Regions from separate parts of the Homo sapiens genome. Here all the other regions are reported to be linked to region 1. Evidence: microRNA targets listed by miRTarBase, many of them from high-throughput screens and not tested one by one. Region 1 holds a microRNA gene; each other region holds the end of a gene's coding sequence.
Evidence for each region. Region 1 holds the annotated microRNA hsa-miR-106b-5p (UAAAGUGCUGACAGUGCAGAU, at 1,118-1,138, opposite strand). A microRNA usually pairs through its seed, bases 2 to 8, with sites in the 3' UTR of a target mRNA and lowers its output. Matches are read on the target gene's strand: a 7mer-m8 pairs with bases 2 to 8, a 7mer-A1 pairs with bases 2 to 7 and ends in A, and an 8mer does both.

Region 1 (4,274 bases):
CTGGAATCAGACAAAAGTGATCCGTGTCCGGGAAGCATTGACCTGCCAGACATTGAGCTCCTCATATTCATCCAGAGCCGCCTGGAACTGGGCGGGTGTGAAGCCACGAGATACACAGCGCTGCTCTGCCTCAGAGAACCGGACACTTCGGCCCCCTGAGACCAGTTCACGGACGGTGGCAAATATCACATCTGCTGGTCTCTGAGTCCTGAAGGAAATGAGTGGGTGTGTAAGGTCAGGATACAAACAGGAATGCTCGACATCAACAGAGAACAATGGTGGCCAGTGTTAGAATTGAGGCCAACCTCAGACACATGGCCACAGAAGACAAAGTGACACAGCTTTGTCCTTCACTAAACCACTCACCTAGCTGTCTGCCCCTTGTCTCCTAGAAGAGAGTCCTTTGACATCTCCATTAGCCTGATGGCTTCATTCACATCTTCTTTCTCCACCACATCCACCATTCTCAGACGTGCCTAAGGGGAAGGTAGGGGGGAAAGATGGGAACGGGAGGAGGGCAGTGGAACGAGGTCAGGGGACACCCTTGTTCTGGCTTTAAGGCTGGGCAGCCCATGGGTCGCCTACTCACAAAACAGGAGTGGAATCCCCCCTCCCCCCAGCATCCGCAGTGTTGGGCCGGCACTGTCAGACCGAGACAAGTGCAATGCCCAGGGCAGCGTCCAGCAATTGCCCAAGTCTCCGCCTCTCAACACTGGCCAGTCCCGGAGTTCAGCTGTCCTGTGAGGGAGACCAGACCCTTTTGAACGCCACTGGGCTCCCCAGCATGACAGATGGAGCTTGGGGAGCTCAGCCAAGAAGACAATTGGCAGAGAGAACGTGTCCCGGGGGCTCGGGAAGTGCTAGCTCAGCAGTAGGTTGGGTAATCACACTACCTGCACGAACAGCACTTTGGAGCCCCCAGGACTGAGGTCCAAGACGGGAGGACAGAAAGGAAGGTCTGTAGCACAGGATCTAGGACACATGGAGTGAAACAGACCCCAACCACCCTCTCAGTGAAGGTTAAGAAGTGGGGAAAAGGCCTTTCCCTCCACGGACGCTGTGCGTGCCCTGCTGGAGCAGCAAGTACCCACAGTGCGGTAGCACGGAGAGGACCACTATCTGCACTGTCAGCACTTTAGCCCCGGCAGGGCTGGAGCGGGAGGTGGGGAGGCGGCAATGAGAGCACGGTAAGGAGCTACCCCTTTAAGGGTCAAAACAGATGGCCCTCCAGCAATTTGGGCACTTACCAGAGCAGTGGAAAGGCGCAGGATAGCCAGCAGGGTCCGGGCAGAAGTATAGGTGGCATCCTTACTAGCCCAAGCCTCTCGCCTCATCTCCACGTATGCTGCTGTGATGTAGTCAGCCAGAGACTCTGGCACCATGGGCTGCTTCTCGCGGCACATGGCTATGTAACGCCTGTGGGGGAAGGTTCATGGGGAAGCAGAAGAGGGAGATGGGGAAGGGAGTGAATATGAGCCCATGTTGTTTTCTGTACCAGGGCTCCCCATTTAACATGGTCCCCTCCAAGAATTTTAAGTGGAAAACACAAATTAGTGGGTGATTATTTGCTTGGCTTGAATATCACTGATGGATTTCACCAAACGTATAGCCCCCACCAGTATCCTCCAAGTTATTTCCTATTTTTTTCGGGAAAATGGCCTTTGTAAGACAAATCCGTCTGTCATTAAGAGAGGATCCAGACCCCTCCTCTGAGCGCATGACATGGCAAAACATATATTTTATTTAAAGAGAACTGTTTACAGAATATTTAAAAGGGAGTAAAAACCGGAAAGAACACTGGAGGCTCATGGGAAAATAGCGATAGAGATTATCATCCAGAATGCCTGGGAGCAGGTGTTTTAAACTTTAAATTTTGGAGTATTTGCATATGCATGAGATAGCTTGGGGATGGGACTCCAGTCTAAACATGAAATTCACCTGTATTTCATATACAACTGATACACATAACCTGAAGGTAATTTTATTAAAAATATTTTTGTGGGCCAGGAGCAGTGGTTCATGCCTGTAATCCCAGCACTTTGGGAGGCAGAGGTGGGCATCCTGGCCAACATGGTGAAACTGCTCTCTACTAAAATACAAAAAATTAACCAGGCGTGGTGGCGTGCGCCTGTAATCCCAGCTACTCAGGAGGCTGAGGCAGGAGAATCGCTTGAATCTGGGAGGCAGAGGTTGCAGAGAGCTGAGATCACTACACTCCAGCCTGGGTGACAGAGCAAGACTTCGTCTCAAAAAAAATAAATAGTGTAGGAAACAAAATTTCCTGTGTCCCTATGATATGAAGTGTGGAATTTTCCACTTAAAAGCTGATCTGAGGCTCTGGACATGTCTGTAGCGGGAAGTGGTGGTGTGAAAAACACACACCCTAAGACTAATAAGCACTTTTTCAGGAGGCTCGCACGGCCCACGCCAACGTTTGCCCACCCGCACCCAGCTCTCCTACCTCATGAGCTTCATGTCCAGAGGTTCAAACTGGGAGGGGGGCTGCCGGCTGTGCTGGTGCACATAGGTGATGTGCTGGGCCAACCTGGACAGAGGGAAGGTTAGAAGGAACACCCTTTTTAGGGCTACGCACCCATGTCCTCTTAGGTGTCCCTCCTTTGGCTCTGCCACTTCCTCACAGTGTAGGAGGGACAAGCTTTCCCGGGAAATCCTCATCAGCATTTCAGCCCCAACCCACCATTTCCCTGAGAACCATGGACCAGCCCCTGCTGCAAAGGGGAGGCTCTGGGGTTTCCAGGAGCGTGGAATTTGTTTTCTGATTCACCTCTCCTCCTCCCTACACAGATCATTACAGGGGACCTCTCTTTGGGTGTTGAGCTTCATTCACCGTAGGTCATTGTCTCGGTCGGGCCGGTCCTGAATCAGCCAGAGGAGGTCAAACCGGGAGAGCAGTGCAGCAGGTAGCTGTATGTTCTGCTCCAGGCTGCGGCGAGGGTTGTAGCGCCCGTAGGCAGGGTTGGCGGCAGCCAGGATGGAGCAGCGGGCATTGAGTGTGGTGAGAATGCCGGCCTTGGCAATGGAGATGGTCTGCTGCTCCATGACCTCGTGGATGGCTGTGCGGTCGGCCTCAGCCATCTTGTCGAACTCATCAATGCAGCACACACCCTGGTCAGCCAGCACCAGGGCCCCACCCTCTAAGGTCAGTTCTCCACTCACGGAGTCTCTCAGCACAGCTGCCGTAAGCCCCACTCCTGAGGAGCCCCGGCCTGTTGTGTACTGGCCTGGAAGAGAAGAAATAAGGAACCATGAGAGAGAAAGAACAAGAAAGAGAACAAGCAAAAGACAACAAACGGGCCAGGGAGGCGAGGCCTGCGCTGGGATCATTCCACTCCCTCCACCAGGCCTTCTTGAGATGCCCGAGGATCTGTGGGGCACTGGCAATGTCCCCCTTCCCCTCCCACTGGTTCTCTTCAGAACACAACTGTGGCTCACTGAAACCTTGGCTCCTGGGCTCAAGCCATCCTCCGGCCTCAGCCTCCCAAGTAACTGAGACTATAGGCACTCACTACCACACCCAACCAATTTTTAAAACTTTTTAGTAGAGGCCGGGCGCAGTGGCTAACTCCTCTAATCCCAGCACTTTCGGAGGCCGATAACAAGGCGGGCAGATCACGAGGTCAGGAGTTCGAGACCAGCCTGCCCAACACAGTAAACCCTGTCTCTACTAAAAATACAAAAAGTGGCCAAGTGTGGTGGCACGCGCCTGTAGTCCCAGCTACTCGGGAGGCCGAAGCAGGAGAATTGCTTGAACCTGGGAGGCAGAGGTTGCAGTGAGCCAAGACCATGCCATTGCACTCCAGTCTGGGTGACTGAGACTCCGTCTCAAAAAAAACAAAAAACAAAACAATACCCAAACAACAAAAAAAACTTTTTAGGCCGGGTGCGGTGGCTCACGCCTGTAATCCCAGCACTTTGGGAGGCCGAGGCGGGCGGATCACGAGGTCAGGATATCGAGACCATCTGGCTAACACGGTGAAACCCCGTCTCTATTAAAAATACAAAGAATTAGCCAGGCGTGGTGGCGGGCGCCTGTAGTCCCAGCTACTCGGGAGGCTGAGGCAGGAGAATGGCGTGACCCCAGGAGGTGGAGCTTGCAGTGAACCGAGATAGCGCCACTGCACTCCGGCCTGGGCGAAAGAGCAAGCCTCTATCTCAAAAAAAACAAAAACAAAAACAAAACTTTTTAGTAGACATGGAAGCGGTCTCAAAATCCTCGCCTCAAATGATTCTCCTGCCTCAGCCTCTCAGAGCAT
Region 2 (4,000 bases), not on the chromosome of region 1:
AGAAGGTTACTAAATGGTCACCCCCCATACCCCCTCGCCAGGCGGGGCTAATGCCGGCCTGCTTCAGTGCTTCCACTGCTCATCTGGCCCGGAAGTCCCGGAGGACTCCGGATGACCAGGAGACGGGACACAAAGGGGGCCGCTGAGGCTGGGAGGTGGGGGAGGGGCAGAAATAAGTGACCGTCACCTTGGAAAAATGTAGACTCATTATCTGAGGCCTGTTACAACACCCGCAGCCATTCTGCAGGCCTGGAGGAGGGGGTGGGGTCGGAAGCCCCTTGGGCTGGAATAGACAATTTCAGGGGATTGCCCCTGAGGGGGCATGCCCTTGATTCTACAAACAATTGGTTCCAGTTAAACATCATCTGGATCCTGCAAAGCGGACTTGAAAGGCAGCCTGAAAGGGAGAGGCCGGGGCTTCCTGCTTGGGCTGGTTCCGTTGAGAAAGCTCTAGCCACCTGGTATCTGGCACGGGGACTAATGTGGAAAAGGATAACTGGCCTTCCAGGCCGAGAGCCTAAAGGAAAGCTTCAGGAGAAGATTTGAATGCAGGAAAGAAACCAGACAGCCTCAAAAAGGACAATCTCAGTGTTAGCCCTGTCGGTGCAGGAGCAGACTGGTACCTGCCACCTCTGGAGAGGTGTTTTCTTTGGAGACGGCTAAGGCGCCAGCTTATGCTTGCCTGTGGACCCACTGGAGCCGAGTGAAATCCCTGTAGATGCAACCCATGCTCACAGCACCTGGGTCCTCAAGGGCTCCAGTAAGAGGGTAACTCCCCCAAGCCTGCCTGTGGCTGCTCATAGCAGGCGGAGCAGGGCAGGCCGTGAGCAGTGGCCCGGAATTAGGAGGTCCAGCTGCCTGGGTAAGTGATCATTTCTGTTTGAGTCCTAGCCCCTTGGAAGCATGTCTGCTTTTTTTTGGTAATTATTTTAATTTTAAATGTTTATTCAAAAATGTATTCCTGCTACCCACAGGCTCCAAGGGGCCCGCTCCCTCCTTCCTACCTCCACTTTCTCTCAACCCCCCACTCACCCTCTCAAGAGAGGAAATGGTGGATCCCTCATCTGGAGCCAGAATGCAACTAGATCTTGCTTTCTAGGCTGGGTACGGACCAAGGCATGTCCTGCAGGGATGGGGGAACTTGTGGGGACGCTGGACACAGACCCATGAAGGGCAGCCACTTTGAATGGCAAGTGCTGGGGACGGACAGCCCGCTCCACCACCGTCTTGGGCCACTGCACAGGAAGATGGTGTGGGGGAGTGCGCCCCCTCCTAGTGGCCCCCAGAGGGCACCATGGGTCTGTGCGGCCACAGGTCCCCAGGCTGGGCCTCGAGCTGCCCTGCGCAGCTCCTGCTGGAATTGGGCTTTGCCAGGGACTGGGATCTTTATGTCGTTCCCCTAACGCCTGAGTCACGGCCGGTCACTGACCCACAGCCACTTTGGTTCAGGTTCTCAGTGACCTTAGGAATTTCTATACCTGTTTCAGGCAGGCAGGCAGGCGACTTTTTTTTTGAGAGAGAGTCTTGCTTTGTTGTCCAGGCTGAGGTGCAGGGGTGATCATAGCTCACTGCAGCCTCGAACCCCTGGGCTCTGTGATCCTCCCACCTCAGCCTCCTGAGCAGCTGGGAATACAGATGTGCACCACTATGCCCAGCTAACTGGCAGGGAATGTTTTAAAAACTTATATTTGTGCCTGAACTTTGCACCTAAAACTACAGCCATAACTCCAGTACACTCTTGGACCTGAGTCGGCGCCTCACCATCTCCCTCCATTACCTCTGCTAGTGGCCTTGTGGTGGTACAGCCAGCTTAGCTTAGCTGGGCCTGGGGGCAGCAGTCACCCAGGGATAGGTCCCTCAAATCAATCAGGCCAGGTCAGGCCTGGGTGAAGGAGGCCCTGCTGCCACTTTGGTGGGCTGTGCCATTTGGGGATGTGCCTCTGAAGACAACCCCCAAAATAGCTCCCACATAAAGGGCCGTGGAGGGGATGGGAGTGGAGATCAGGAAAGCCTGATAGTGTCATATTCCTCAGTCATTTGGTGTCTGTCCAGCTCAGTGGCACACATGTGCTTAATTAAATGTGAGCGTGGGCGGGTGAGGAATGGATCCAGGCTTCGTTTCTGGAGAGAGGCGAGTGCTGGGTGGCCACAGCAATGGCTTTGGTAGGGTCTTGGCTCTGAGAGGGGGGAGACCTGAGTAACAGCGTTAGCTCTGGGATCTCTTCCTGGTCCTAAGGGGCTCCTCCCCAGTTCTGAACTCTGAGTAACCCTCTACCAGGAGCAGTGAGGCCAAGGTCATTGTTAATGAGTGTTTATTGTTAATAAAACCATAGTACATTTACAGTAAGTGACAACATTATTGTACAGTTAAAGTATCATACAATATTACAGCAATAAAATAATGCCTATTTCTTTGTACATCCAGCCAAGCAGCTAGTCAAAATATTTTCCAGAATTGCAAGCCCCTGGGGGCTTTTCAGGGTGACCTGAGTGCCACCTTCTGAAATGCCTGGGGCTTTTGGTGAATAAATAGTTTTTAAGGTGCGGCCAGACAGCTGAAGAAGTTGCACCCAGACAGACTGTGCCTGATGCTGCCCCAGTGTCTGGTCCATAAATATGACAGGTGTCAGGGGAGCCCAGGGCCTGCAGAATTCGAGGGCAAGGCCGTGAGGGGACACAGCAGAAAGGCCTCTTCTCCTGGCCCTTACCTTCCATCAATGCCCTGTCCTTTAATCTCCAAGAGTCACAGTCCCCAGTGGGACCTGTTTGCCCAGCTCTCAATCCTACATTAAAGGAGCCGAGAGACTTGACCAGGGGACTCTGCTTCATCGCCCCCACAAAGGCAACCTAGTCTAGGCCTGAGGTTCCAGAATCCACCCATTTACTTTGGCCCCTAAAACCAGCAGCAAAACAAGAGCTGAGGCCATTCCTACACAGCACCCCATCCCCTACCCCTTGCCCCTCCATGCCAGACTTAGCTCAGAAACCATCAAGCTGGGGAACTGCCCTCTGCTGCTAACTGAGCAAGCTGGTAGTCCTGATGGGAGGGACTCTGGAAGCCCAGGCACCAAAGACAATGGGGGAACTCCGGGTGGCAGCAGTCGTGGTGGCAGGGGGGGGTCCACAGGCCACTGGATGCCCACATTAAGCCTGTCAAACCTTTGAAGAACAAGTTTGGGGATTTGGGCAGCCTTTGCTATGTGACATTTAGGAAGAAAAATACCAGCTTTTGAATTACTGCAGACGACTGGGGGCCTAGGCAGTATGCATTCTATACATTCATAAGGATTCCTGTACCCCCAGGAGCCCCAGTTGGGATGGTCTGAGTTTACTGAGGCCCTAGGGGTGAGTAGAGCTTGGAGGGCCTGGGCGGAGGTGGATCAGGATCAGCTGCTGACCTGCAGGAGGGGAGAGCGACACCCCGGGGGAGTGCATGGCTGCCCTTGAGTTGCAAACTGAGATGGGGAGGAGGGCCACCAGTTAGCTACATCTCCCCTTTGCCCATCAGTGATTGAACAAACAGCTCTAGGGCAGAGGAGATGAGGGTGAGCTGCCCGGTGACAGGGGGGACATCTGGGGGAGGAGGAGGAAACAGCCCCGTGAACCTGGCTCCAAGAGGGCCTACAACCATACCCCGACATGGTGGGCCCTGGCACCTCCACAGGCCCTGGCCTCGGCAGCCTCCGCCCCCTGCCTCACACCCGGGAGGTGATGTAGACAGAGTGCACGCGCTCTGCCAGGGTGTTCTGCAGGTCCTGCAGTGGATCCAGGCCCTGCACTTTGCTGCTGCGGCCGTAGATGAGCTGCCGGAAGGCATCCTGCTCCAGTAGGGCCTTCATGTGCTTGAGGAAGAAGCCCTCACAGAACAGGGCCAGTTCTGGGGCATTGTGGATCTGTAGGGCAGAGAGAGGAGGGGTGAAGCCCATCGCCTTAGTACAGCCCCACTCACCCTCACCCCCAAATACTACCTACCCATGGCCACAGCCCTGATTAAGCCCCA
Region 3 (4,000 bases), not on the chromosome of region 1:
GATTTCTATTTGATAAATTGGTTATGTAGCAACATGAATTTTAGATGTTTTAACAGTGGTCACCTTATTTATGTTTGCTTTTTCACTTCAGGTACCCCAATCTGAAGTCAGTAAATGAACTAATCTACAAGCGTGGTTATGGCAAAATCAATAAGAAGCGAATTGCTTTGACAGATAACGCTTTGATTGCTCGATCTCTTGGTAGGTTCTATTTGGGGGAAAATTTGGTATTAGACCATGCGATAATTTCTTACCCTCTTGTGGCCGTACATTTCTCACTATTGTGAATCTTCATGTGTTCCCTATGATTCTTGATTTAGCTTAAAAGAAAACGTAAGACATGGTTTCATTAGCTTGAACCTTATCTTTGTAAAGCCATGCATTTACCTTGTTTATTCCTGGTTATGTTTTCATCTCACAGCCTATTCAAAAAGATTTTGAATAATTATTTCAAAACTTTTTGCAACTTTAATAATCTTAAATAACCTTAAAATATTTAGGTAAATACGGCATCATCTGCATGGAGGATTTGATTCATGAGATCTATACTGTTGGAAAACGCTTCAAAGAGGCAAATAACTTCCTGTGGCCCTTCAAATTGTCTTCTCCACGAGGTGGAATGAAGAAAAAGACCACCCATTTTGTAGAAGGTGGAGATGCTGGCAACAGGGAGGACCAGATCAACAGGCTTATTAGAAGAATGAACTAAGGTGAGAGACCTCATCCTGAGAAAGGTTGAGTTAATGTTAGAGTATAAGTGGTGGTAATCTTGAATACTTTTCCCATTAAATATTGATGGGGGTTTGAATTTTAATCAGTGCTTTTGTGGGGAGTGGGGGTCAACTATCTTAATGATTACAGTTGGTTTGTTTACTGCTTTTGAGGACCTTTCTGGAGGAAAGGAAAAGCCTGTTTTGGGGAGTCTTTAAAGATGGAAATTGGGTGGTCTTAAAAATGTAAACTCAATCATTACTTTATAACTGCCTAGTTTATGTTAATTGTTAGCTGCCTAAAGTGTTTTCTAATGGTTTTCTTTTTTCCTTTCAGGTGTCTACCATGATTATTTTTCTAAGCTGGTTGGTTAATAAACAGTACCTGCTCTCAAATTGAAATATATTGTTGTATTTGTGATTTGTTGTTGTTGTTGTTAGCCTGCCTCTGTCTTCCCTTAACTACTGTGGCAAGTGTGGTGTGTGATAAAATTAAGCCAAATCAACAGCCCATTTCGTGCAAAATCAGGGTCGAGTCTGTGTGAAAGACATCTCTTGGGTTTTTAAAAGGCTTTTCTATACAAAAGATTTTAATTTTTTGTTTTTTAACTGTGCTGAGTGATTCGAAATGGGTTTATTCTAAGAAAGCCTGTTTCACAAGCATTTGTACATGATTTGTCGGTAAGGTAATCCAACTTTGGTTTATGGAAAAAATTGAATTTAGTTGCTAAAATTTATTTCTCGGGCCTTCGCTTGTTTATAAACTGCCATGTAAATGTGTTGTTTTCCTTTTGCATTCCATTTTTGTGTTCTTGTTTTGCATCTTTTGCCATACTTACGTGAGTTACTAATAATTGTTACATACTGTGGGTATTATGAAGGAAGGCATGAAATTTGTGCCCAGGGATGCAAATTATTTCAGAGCATCTGATGAAATTAATGGGCAAAAACTTCAAAGGTTTTTTTGTAAATAACATTCCTTTATACTTCATGTATTGTTTCACCTAGACTAGTGAACAATGTAGAGTGTAACATGAAGTACATAGAATGAGAGTAAAAATGTTTGTGGTCCTCATTTAGTTGTCAAAGTTCTGACACACTGAAACAGCTCCCTTAGTAATTATTTTGGTACTACTGCTCCACAGTCATTTATTGCTTTTTAATATTCGAAAGTTGCTAGACAAATAGAATTTCTTTGAGTTCTTTGTTCCTGGTTTTGGGACCTATTTCTCTGGCTTAGTAAGTTTGTTTAGGGTCAGTGAATTTTGGAGAGAAATCAAGATGATCGTTTATAAAAATCATTTTACATATTTATGATTGTATCAGTGTTTTGCTAGATGTTTTTTGTCTTAGCAGTTGGGTCAATATTTTGAAATAGTACATGGATATCTAGGTAGAGCCAAAGAGTTTATTTTTTAATTTTCCTTTGTAGAGATGAGATCCACACCAGCCTGTATTCCCCAGCATGTTACTGAACTCCTGGCCTCAAGCAATCCTACTGCCTCAGTCCCCTGAATAGTTGGGATTACAGGCATGACCCACTGCCTCCAGAGGGTTTTTAAGTTATAAATTCAGTTTTGTCTTACTGCTTTGGTAGATAGAGAGTACAGTTCCCAGTGTTAGCACATCCAGTGTCATGAAGGGTAGTTGTGCCTCAGAAGATGTCAGAGCCTGTTTGGCTTCCAGGTTTTAGAGGAATAGTGAGGGCCATCAGTGGCCTCTGCAGGGTCAGAATTAAGACTAATTATGGAATGAAGTTGTACAGATGGTGTATTGCTTGCTTAATCTAGGTGCAGGTGGGTGGGTGCATGAAATGTGGGAAGTCTTCATTGGGATAGGAATAAGCACTTTATATACAGAGAGATACTTAGCAAAGCTTTTTTTAAAAAAAAATATATAAATATATAGCCCATGCAGACACATATTGTAAGTGTGGCCTGGGGCCAGGGAGGATGGGGAAATGTGGGAGGGGTTGCAGAGAACCAGGATTCCCATAGAGAACAGAGTAAAGTGGGATAACCAATCTGGTTTTATAAGAGGATTGTGAGGAACAATAATAGGTACGAAAATGTTTGTGAGCTGGTGGAACCTATTCAAATGCAGATTAACACCTGATTAGGAAACTCACTTCTTATAAATGTCATTGCTTTCAAGGGATCCTCCTCTGGAAGGCCTAACCAACCTTAGGGGTCTGGGCACCCAGTAGGTTCTCCTACAAGATTACACCTCATATATGTTTATTTCCTGTTCATCCTTCTAAGGTCCGGCTTTCTCTAGTGGATGGTCCCTTAGCTATCTCAGTTTTTATAAAGTTGTCTTGGACTCACTGGCCTTTAACCAGTGTTAACCTAGTTAGTAACTTCTTTGAAGGTTCATTTGTGGTTCGCTGGATTAGGAGTGTTGGCTTCGGAGCCAGAGTGCTTGGGTTCATATCTAGTCTCCACTTATTTGTTAGCGTGGGCCAATAAATAATCTCTGTCTCGGTTTCCATGTCAGCAAAATGGAGATAATTTTGCCTAATTTCATAGGATTTTAATGAAGATTAAATGTTAACAGGTCCTGTAAAATGCTTAGAGCAGCGCCTAGCTCGAAAGTGCTCAATGCTGCTGTGCAGTATAGCTTCAGCACTTAATGTGGGCACACAACAGTGAATTACGGAAAATAGCCTCTGCTTTCAGGTATCAGTCTGATGGGAAGACAGGCAACAGATACAGTGAAATGAGTGCCCTGGGGATGTATAGGATGTGATAGAGCTTCTTAGGGGTGTCTGGTGTCTTTGTGGGCCCACCTCCATGGGAAGATTGACAGCTTTCTGCTCCCAGTGGTTTTCCTTAGAAATGTGGTGTCAAAGAGCCAAAACATTCCTCTCATGTGCCTCCCTTCTGTTAGGTAGTAAACTTTAAGGCCAGGCCTTTTAATTTCTGCCCATTTGCTGACATGTAGGCACTCAGTGTTAAGTGAATGTATTAGTTTTCTTTTGCTGCTGTAACAAATGACCATAAACTTAAGTGAATTTATTGTTTTAACTTTTCTGGAGGTCAGAAATCTAAAATAGGTTTCACAGCCAAATCAAGGGGTCAGCAGGCCTGTGTTACTTCTGAAGACTCCTTTTCTTTGCCTTTTCCAGTTCTGGGAGCCCCTTGCTTTTCTTGGTTCGTGGCATCTCTGCTTCCATCGTCTTTGATCTTCCTCCTGCCTCCCTCTTAATATAAAAACTTCTGTGATTACATTGGGCTACTTGAATAATTGAGGATAATCTCCCCATCTCAAAATCCTTAATTCAAGCACAC
Region 4 (4,000 bases), not on the chromosome of region 1:
TCTTTCCCTTATAGTTAGAATTCTGTCATTAAAAATAATAATCCTGGTTTATCTAAAAGCATGGCATTTTTTTTTGTCTGGTTACAAACATAATGTTACCTGCTTTAAAAGTGTGTACTGCAGGATAGCTTAGAGAGTTTTCCGACCAGAGTTTGTTCACTGCCCTCCTCTCTCCTACCTCCCTCCTCTACGCAGGGAATCACAGACACGGCTCAGACCATTTATGAAACTGCGGCTCGAGAACACGAGAGCAGAGGGGTGACTGGTGCCGTGGGCGAGGTTCTGCGCCAGATTCCTCCGGCAGTGGTGAAACCTCTGATTGTTGCCACAGAAGCAACGTCAAACGTGCTGGGTGGCATGAGAAACCAAATTAGGCCAGATGTCCGGCAAGACGAGTCACAGAAATGGCGCCACGGGGATGACTGATGGCTTGGAACTGACAGTGTGAAGATAAGGAGAGTGGAACCAGGAGCTCAGAGTCCTGACAGCAGCTTCAGAGGAAGCTCGTTTAATTTTATTGTGCTCATCTCAGGAACAAAAGCATTTTTTAGTTAAATAATTTAACATCAAAACAACATGCAACCAAAAACTTCTGACATTTATAGTTGATACTTGCCTATAGAAATGTTTGGTGGCTGGTGTCAAAGGTCCTTAAAGCATTTGCTGCCAAGTTAGTGGAAGGCTCACTTTTGTTAAGATGACTGTAATTCTCCTTGTTACCGACGAGAGATCATTGGAAGCTGCCTTCTAACACTTTGTGTAGCTCTGTGGAGTTGGATTTTCTTAAGGTTTAAAAAGAATCACAGCTTCGGAACTTTTAACTGAAAATGAGAGACAGAAGCCACAGGGGAAGCAAAGCAAATAGGATTTTCAATATAAATATCAGTGTGGAAAAATAACCTATTCTGTTGAATTTAGTGTTCATGCACTTGAGAACAACATTATTTCCATTTACTCCGAAAATCCTTCTGTGGGGGTTTGAGAAAGTGAATGTTGCAGACATGTTCTGTTGTGTTGCACTTTATCCTGTGTTTATGTGTATGTGTTTTTAGATTAATTCAAGTTGTGTGCTATATTTCTTGTATAATTTACAAAGTTACACAAAATATAAAGAGCAGTAAACTTGTCTGAAAGTTTTTGGCAAAGGAAGGTAACTTCAATGTAATAGCTTCCTTTAAGAGTACAGGAAAATGCATTCTGTAATGAAGTGGGGCCCATGTAATTGTTTATATTTTCAGTTTTAAGCAGGTATAGTGCAGGCTTGTTAGGAATGTGTGGAAGGGAAGATTGGAAGTGATTTTTCCTCTTTTAAAAGTAAACAAAATTCTTCAAATATGCCCTAGTTAACTATTTCAGCATACCATTTTTACTTGGTTAACAGTGTACATTTTGATAACCTATCAGGAATGAATAAAGTATTTTTATTTAAAGGTGATATTGTTTTATGCTTCCATGAATATTTTGCTTTTCTTAGAGCATATTCATAGATGCAGTACTGTGATTTACCACAAGATAATTGGGAACACTTTCTCAAAATCGATTTTGGTTAATATCAGGTAAATCATTACCTAGGAGTAAGAGGGAAATTGTTGTCAATTCCTGACTTTAGATTGATCCAGCAGAAAGAAAAGGTGGAACTTTGTATATATCCACTGTTGAAAGTTGCATGACCTGACTTCCTGTTTTCTAAAGTTGGGGGAATATTATTGAACTTCAATTTCAGAACTGCATTTCAATTTGGGGCTTGGAAAATGTAGTTAAATCAATTTCGTTCTCTAAATTTTCTAAGCAGGAAAGCAATGTAAACCAAAAATCAAAATGTTTAGAATTTATAAAAATGGGGTTATATAGCTTTTAATTTTAGTTTCCTTTTTACTGCCAAAAAACTTAAAAAGACAACAGCGTAACCACCTGTTTAAGCACCGTGGGACCATCTCTTATTCGGGTAGAGCCTGGTCCTGGCGACACACTAACAGGAAGGCGTGCTGTGTTACCGGGAAGGCGCCTCTGGCTGTGGGGTGCGTTCTGACCACCCCGCTCAGATGCCAGCATTTTCCATTTGCCCTTAAGGAAACTTGCTATGTGTGTTAACCCAGTTATGATTAGTCAAACTGGAAAACACTTGATCAAACTTAAAATTGTAAAATCTGTCTAACTTTTAAATATACTTTCCACAGTTGTACTTAAGTTCAATTAACTACAGTATAGAGAAAAATAATTATTCTCTTCTTTGCACCCGGAGTTGCAAACAAATTAAGTTTACAAATCTCATTTAAACATATATCTTTGTAATGTAATCTCCGCGGTTCTTTCTTTGTTCTACCCTCCTGCACCTGTTGTCGATGTAATCATTTTGGGAACAGAAACGTTGTGTCTCAAAAAGATTCGTTGTCAGTTCAGCCAAGATGTTCTTTACCTGAGATTCTGGAAAGATGTTTATCTATATCGGAACACTTCTACATTATTAAATGTCCTTAAGCTTTTTCTTTTTTACAAGTGTCTTTTCAGACTTTGGTGTTGTGATGACACAGTAGAAAGAGCGTGGCTAGAATCCGTGGTTTGCCACATCTGCAGCTTACCAAACGGATGACTTGTCCAGGACATCTGATCCCTGTAAGCCTCAGCATCCCTCCTGGTAAATGGAGGGTTTTTTACGACAAAGCCCAAAGGGAGGTTTTGGATGATTAGGCTGTGTGTGCGTGTGAGAATGATCACATGTGGCGTCATGCTTTGTACAGAGCCTCAGACCACTGGGCCTCGTCCAGTGAGAGTCCTCTCTGGCGACATCACACGCGGAGCAGCCAGGGGCCACCTTAGATCTCAGATCTCTCAGAGCAATACTTTTCTGAACTGCCACTGTGCCTGGGTGGTTGGGTTGGTGTCATGCTTCTGACTAGAGTAGATCGCGCATGTCCACCAGTGATACGTTGAGTCCTTACAGTTCCCCCCATGGAGTCCCATAAGCAGCTCCATCGAGATCTGTCAGCAAGTTGCAGGACCCCACAATGTTCTGACATGTTAAGACCCCCTTACATGACGAGTAGAGAGGCAGCTGAGGCCACAACCGTGTCTTCCTCTTGAATGGAGCTAACTCGGAACCCCCCGTTTTCTCTTCCTTTCTGCCCACCACTGAACATTGCCTTTTAGATAACTCAGTGTTTCTTCTAGATGTCATAGCAATAGACTTTCACTTTCATGAAGTTTGGGTACGATTTGGATTCTCGCTTAAGTACATATATTTATCAATATTTTTATAAGGCAAAGTTCACTTAAAAAATCTTTCCAAGTAGCAGTGTGCCTAAGATGGCAAAATACTAAAAACTGGTGTTTCCTGCTCCTGTTGTGTGTCACTTTTCAAGCCGATTGAAATATTTCTGGCTTTTAGGGCATTACTTTTTAACTATCTCCTTTAAAAACGATGTTCTGTAGGTTTAGTGTCTTTGTTCATTTCCAAAAGAGTCCAGACAACTGTGTCTGCCCCTGCAGAGGCTGTTTGTCCAAAGGCAGCATGCCGCTTCCACCGGAATGCAGACAGCAGGGGAGCGGAATTCTAAAGCAGCGACTTAAAATGAGGAATCCCCAATTGCACTAAATGGTTTCAGGATTGACTAATCATTGTCTTAACATTAACTCAGATTTTCAATGTGTAAAGAGCTGTGTGACTTGGCGTCTGAGAGATCCCTCTGCTTTGCTTTGCTTCAGAGTCCTCGCACCCGCATCCTCAGAACTGTGGGGCATGGTGGGCTCTAACGAGCACTCCCCTTCTGTTTTCCTTCATTACTTTTGACCTCCTTAAGACTTCAGAGAGAATGTCCGTCAAGTTCTTTTCTCCATCAAGTTCTTTAAGTTCCTTGAAAGGAAGGGACTGTGCAAACACAAAGCAATATTCTTTTGTATCTGCAAATGCATCAGCTGGACATACCAATTGGTATCAAATAGAATAAAATCAAATATAAATGTTTGAGTCTTAGGTTAAAAAGGAAGGTTATTTGTATAGTTT
Region 5 (4,000 bases), not on the chromosome of region 1:
AGCCTGGCCTCTGTGATCACAAGCTACACAGAGGGCATTGCCTAGGTGGGTGTGGCCACTGGGTTTTCCTGGATCAGGACTAACCCATTGTTAGGACCATGTATTCTTACAGATCTCTCTTGAGCAGCATTCTTTTGTATACCTGAGCAGCATTCTTTTGAGTCAGTGGTGAGGCAGCCAAGAATCCTTGGCCCCAAAGTGAAAATGACATGTGACTCTGCTAGGTAGGGACACCCTCCCTACCCAGCTTGTTCCTGGGCTAGAGAGATGAAAGGGTTTGATCTCAAGGAGCTCCAGCACATGCAAATTACACACGGCAAAGTTTGTCTTTTGAAGTTGGTTTCCCTCCGCATACCTGCTGGCCAAAACTAACATTGTTCTGTTTCTTCTCATCTCAAGGAATTGTGGGAACGTATTCTGCTCCAGTTGTTGTAACCAGAAGGTTCCAGTTCCCAGCCAGCAGCTCTTTGAACCCAGTCGAGTATGCAAGTCTTGCTATAGCAGCCTACATCCCACAAGCTCCAGCATTGACCTTGAACTGGATAAGCCCATTGCTGCCACTTCCAACTGAAGCTCAGTGACCTGGGTGGGCAGTGGCCAAGCTGCTGTTCCTATGACAGGCCCACTCAACCTGGGCAGACCGAGAGGCCCGTGCACTTTGGAATGGGAGCGTGGAACCACCTGTACAGAGTGACAGATTTGGGATGCACCACTGGATTGTAGATTGATTTTTCTTTCCTGTCCCCCTACTCCCTCCCTACCTTTTCCATCCTCCTCCTCTGCCTTCAAAAAAGGAAACTTTCCCTTGGTTGTCTTAATTTTTTTTTTTTTTGATGGAAGACCAAGGGTTGCCAGGCCCACTGTAACTGCCGAGCTGCCTGCTGTCACGTGACACTGAGGGATGGCTTGTTTCTTCCGGGTGGGAGGATGGTGGTCAGAGCCAGGAGTATGGAGATCTGAGACCGTGAGCAGGGAAGAAAGCCAGTGCTAACATGCAACCATTCCTCACGCCACCGCCACATCAGAGCTGGTTGGGAACCCTTTGCTGCTGGGGAGGCTGGAAGCATATTCCCCAAGAGCACTGCCCTGGGCATCATCTCCCTCCTGCGAGGAGCTGAGCCAGTCCCCTCACAGATGGATAAATGAGGCTGATGTTTGGAGGGAGAGGCACACGGTAAATGGCATCCCCTTAGGCGCCTCTTTGGGAAAGGAAAGTGGATGCTCCTTTGAGGCAGGCGAGGGGCTGGGAGTGGGTAGCCGTCATGTTGTCCCCCGTGGGATCCCATTTTTAACTTGACCCAGATTGTCTTGGGCTCCTTTTACTTTCAGGGGGCTGCTTTCCTGGGCCAGGCTGTGTAGCACTTCCCACCCTCAGGCATGAGTACAGACTGGTCAAAATGTTTATGCAGTCAAGGCCAAAGCCTGCCCTGAGCCCAGACACACCTGGGTCCCCATTCTGGGGCCTGGTCCCCTAAACAATCTCTTCCTCAGCCAGCACAGGGAAATCCAGACTCAGGGTTCCAGAAATCCCCCGTTCCCAAACCAAACCAATCATGGATCTTCCCTTTAAGGGGTAGAATCAGCCTTTAGAGTTACAAGCCCCTGGAAAAGGGAGCAGGTCCCATACAATCAGCCTTTCTCCTCTTCTCTTCTTGGGACAGGAATAACTGCTGAGCAGTCCCCCTTTGCCACTCCTGGCTGTCTGAGTGGGCACTTGTCTGGCTGCTGGCCAGCAGTGAAGGGCCACTTGGTGACTTCGTAGGGTTCCTTAGAGAAGTGACATGGCCTTGAGGAGATTCAGGGCACCTTTCCTCAGTGAGCTTTGATATGGTCCAAAAACAGCCTTAAATCAAGAATATTTGTGGAGGTAGGTGTGGGGAAGGTTGGAGAAGAGTTAGGTTTGTGCTTTGTAATCTTGGCATCCATGTTTTGTGCCTGCCCTCCCTCTTGGGGAGGCCATGCTTGACTCTGCTGAAAGCTGCTAACTGGTGACAGGGTGGATCATGGTGAGGACTAGGGGTAAGGTCAGGGAATGCTTAAGCTCTGGCCCTGCCCTGTATTCCTCTTCCCCTTGGTAGCAGTTCCCTGACCAAGGGCAAGGTGTGTCTCAGGAAGGTGGTTCTGTGCATGCCTGGGTGTGGTTAAGGCGTGGCCCAGAAGGCTTCCCTGGTGCTCTCAGTCCAGGCAAAGCCCAGAGCATCTGAGCACGTCTCTGACTTCCAGTGGCAACACAGTTTGAACGTGGTGAAACAGGGTGTAGTTCTTTTCCACATTCTGTGTCATCTAGTCGTGCAGGTAGGGAAAAAGTTGGTCTAATTGAAGATTGTGCATTTCCTAGTGACAGGTGCCAAGAGGTTATGATACGGGTTTCTTGGGTCTGATGTACAGTGTGAATAAATGCTTGCAGCTCTTAGCTCTTTTTTGATCGATGAAGCACTTTTTTATTAATATTTTCCTTTGTTAAAGGAGGAACCGTAACTCTCCATAGCTGTACATATAACCCTTTTCTCCTAAAGAGGAGTCAGTCAGTGCTCCTATATTTTTCATTTTTTGTCAAAGCAAGAAGTAAATACTTTAGAATTGTTAAATATATAAATAAAGCAAATAAAGTTGAGTGTTCCACATGGTAGCATTTGCTAACACTTCCTAATTCTTTGCCCTGTGGTTTATCCCCTCTTCGTCCCTTTTCCCTCTCACACAGAAGTGTTTGAGGGCCTGCTGGGAAACTGACCTTTGGCAAAGGAAAGCTACAGATAGCCTTCCGACTCTAGACCTTGGCAAGGAGCCTCACCATGATGTTCAAGCACTGAACGCATTTCCTCAGTGATTTTGCTCCTAAAATCTCCCAGGCTAAAAGAGGGCAAAGCAGTCAGGGATCTGACCTGGCAGCTATTCCTCCTTCTCTGAAGAGTTCCCATCAGTAGTCATTACAACTACCTCTCGCCTCAAGGCTCCATTTTTAGCTGCTGCTCTGATTTCAGGGCAGCCAGTACTCTGGCCCCTTCAGTCGGGGAGTGGAAGGAGATGTGGGGTGGGGGTGAGAAAATGCTTCTGCCTGTTGTTCTTGAAGGATAGACTATGGGTGGGCAGAGAGAACTGGGGGCAGAAATGGAATTAGATGTGATTGGGTTATGCAGTCAACTAGAGGTCTCCTTCCCGCCCTCTCTCCACACAGAGAGGAACCTCTGCTCCTTAGCTCTTACAGCAGGACTGTGGCATCTAGTCACTTCAATACTAGTTCTTGCTCTTCACAGAGGTAGATTTTTCTTTACCCTACAGCACTGTTGGGCATCCCTCCCATCACATGGGTCTGTGGGTGAGATATGTTATGCTGTTCCTCCCTCGGGAAGGTTGGTATTGAGGGGTGCCTTGCTCCAGAGGCGCCAGCCCAGCATCTGTGGTGAGTTGGCTAAGATCCAGAGTGACCTGCTCAGAGCTCCCCAGAGGCCTTCACTCTTTGGGGCAGTCTCTCTAGGGTCACTTTCTGAATGTACCTTCTACCTAAAGTATACAAACACAAAGAGCCAGCTGAGCTGGTTCTAGTGTGAAAGCCGTAAGTGCCACCCAGCAGGCGTTTGAAAACAAGAAATCATTCTTCTGTGGAAGGAGAATGTGCCATCTCAGCTACCCTCAGTCCGCCAGGCAGCCCAGTCTGTGTATTCATATGAAGTTGTGAAAACCATGAGTGTGTGCCATGGCCATCGTGTCTACACACAGCCACTATTGTTCCTGTGGGCTAGTCTCCAGCAAATTAAAACACTGGCATGGCCTAGGAAGGGCGTTGCGAGCTCCTAAATGGAAAGCTTCTCTGGGGGTAGGGAGATGAAGAGCCAAGATGCTGGTGAAGCAGGTGCAGTGAGGATCCAAGGCAAGGAATTGCCCTGAGGGAGGTGGCTGCATATGGAGAAAGGCAGTTCTCTGTGGGCAAGGCCAGCTTGCTTCAGGCTGTAGAGGGAATTTGGTCTGAAGCAACAGGGCATGAACTGTGACTTTGAGCTGC

Region 2: miRTarBase lists ABTB2 as a target of hsa-miR-106b-5p. The part of its 3' UTR that is shown has no 7-base or 8-base seed match.
Region 3: miRTarBase lists RPL7 as a target of hsa-miR-106b-5p. The part of its 3' UTR that is shown has no 7-base or 8-base seed match.
Region 4: miRTarBase lists ATG2B as a target of hsa-miR-106b-5p. Seed matches in the 3' UTR shown: 8mer at 1,017-1,024.
Region 5: the mRNA of MTMR3 is a reported target of hsa-miR-106b-5p. Seed matches in the 3' UTR shown: 7mer-m8 at 654-660 and 7mer-m8 at 2,434-2,440.

Annotation. Positions count from the first base shown.
Region 1 is chr7:100,092,926-100,097,199 of GRCh38, forward strand. MIR106B (microRNA 106b) reads right to left here and starts at 1,149; the gene lies at 1,068-1,149. It overlaps MCM7 (minichromosome maintenance complex component 7), which reads right to left. Exons shown (of 15, transcript NM_005916.5): 11 at 2,849-3,242; 12 at 2,462-2,545; 13 at 1,248-1,416; 14 at 367-476; 15 at 1-208. The coding sequence ends at 7. It overlaps MIR25 (microRNA 25), which reads right to left and starts at 718; the gene lies at 635-718. MIR93 (microRNA 93) reads right to left here and starts at 922; the gene lies at 843-922. RefSeq lists an enhancer at 2,576-3,076.
Region 2 is chr11:34,148,692-34,152,691 of GRCh38, forward strand. ABTB2 (ankyrin repeat and BTB domain containing 2) reads right to left here. Exons shown (of 17, transcript NM_145804.3): 17 at 2,296-3,893. The coding sequence ends at 3,696. Among named protein-coding and RNA genes, the nearest start is that of NAT10, 45 kb to the left of the region's middle. RefSeq lists an enhancer at 1,229-1,758.
Region 3 is chr8:73,287,753-73,291,752 of GRCh38, reverse strand. RPL7 (ribosomal protein L7) reads left to right here. Exons shown (of 7, transcript NM_000971.4): 5 at 92-201; 6 at 501-710; 7 at 1,048-1,511. The coding sequence ends at 709. Among named protein-coding and RNA genes, the nearest start is that of RPL7, 3.9 kb to the left of the region's middle.
Region 4 is chr14:96,282,181-96,286,180 of GRCh38, reverse strand. It overlaps ATG2B (autophagy related 2B), which reads left to right. Exons shown (of 42, transcript NM_018036.7): 42 at 196-4,000. The coding sequence ends at 426. Among named protein-coding and RNA genes, the nearest start is that of BDKRB1-AS1, 16 kb to the right of the region's middle. RefSeq lists an enhancer at 3,321-3,861.
Region 5 is chr22:30,025,231-30,029,230 of GRCh38, forward strand. MTMR3 (myotubularin related protein 3) reads left to right here. Exons shown (of 20, transcript NM_021090.4): 20 at 400-4,000. The coding sequence ends at 571. The region is part of intron 3 of HORMAD2-AS1 (HORMAD2 and MTMR3 antisense RNA 1); the gene reads right to left. Among named protein-coding and RNA genes, the nearest start is that of MIR6818, 20 kb to the left of the region's middle.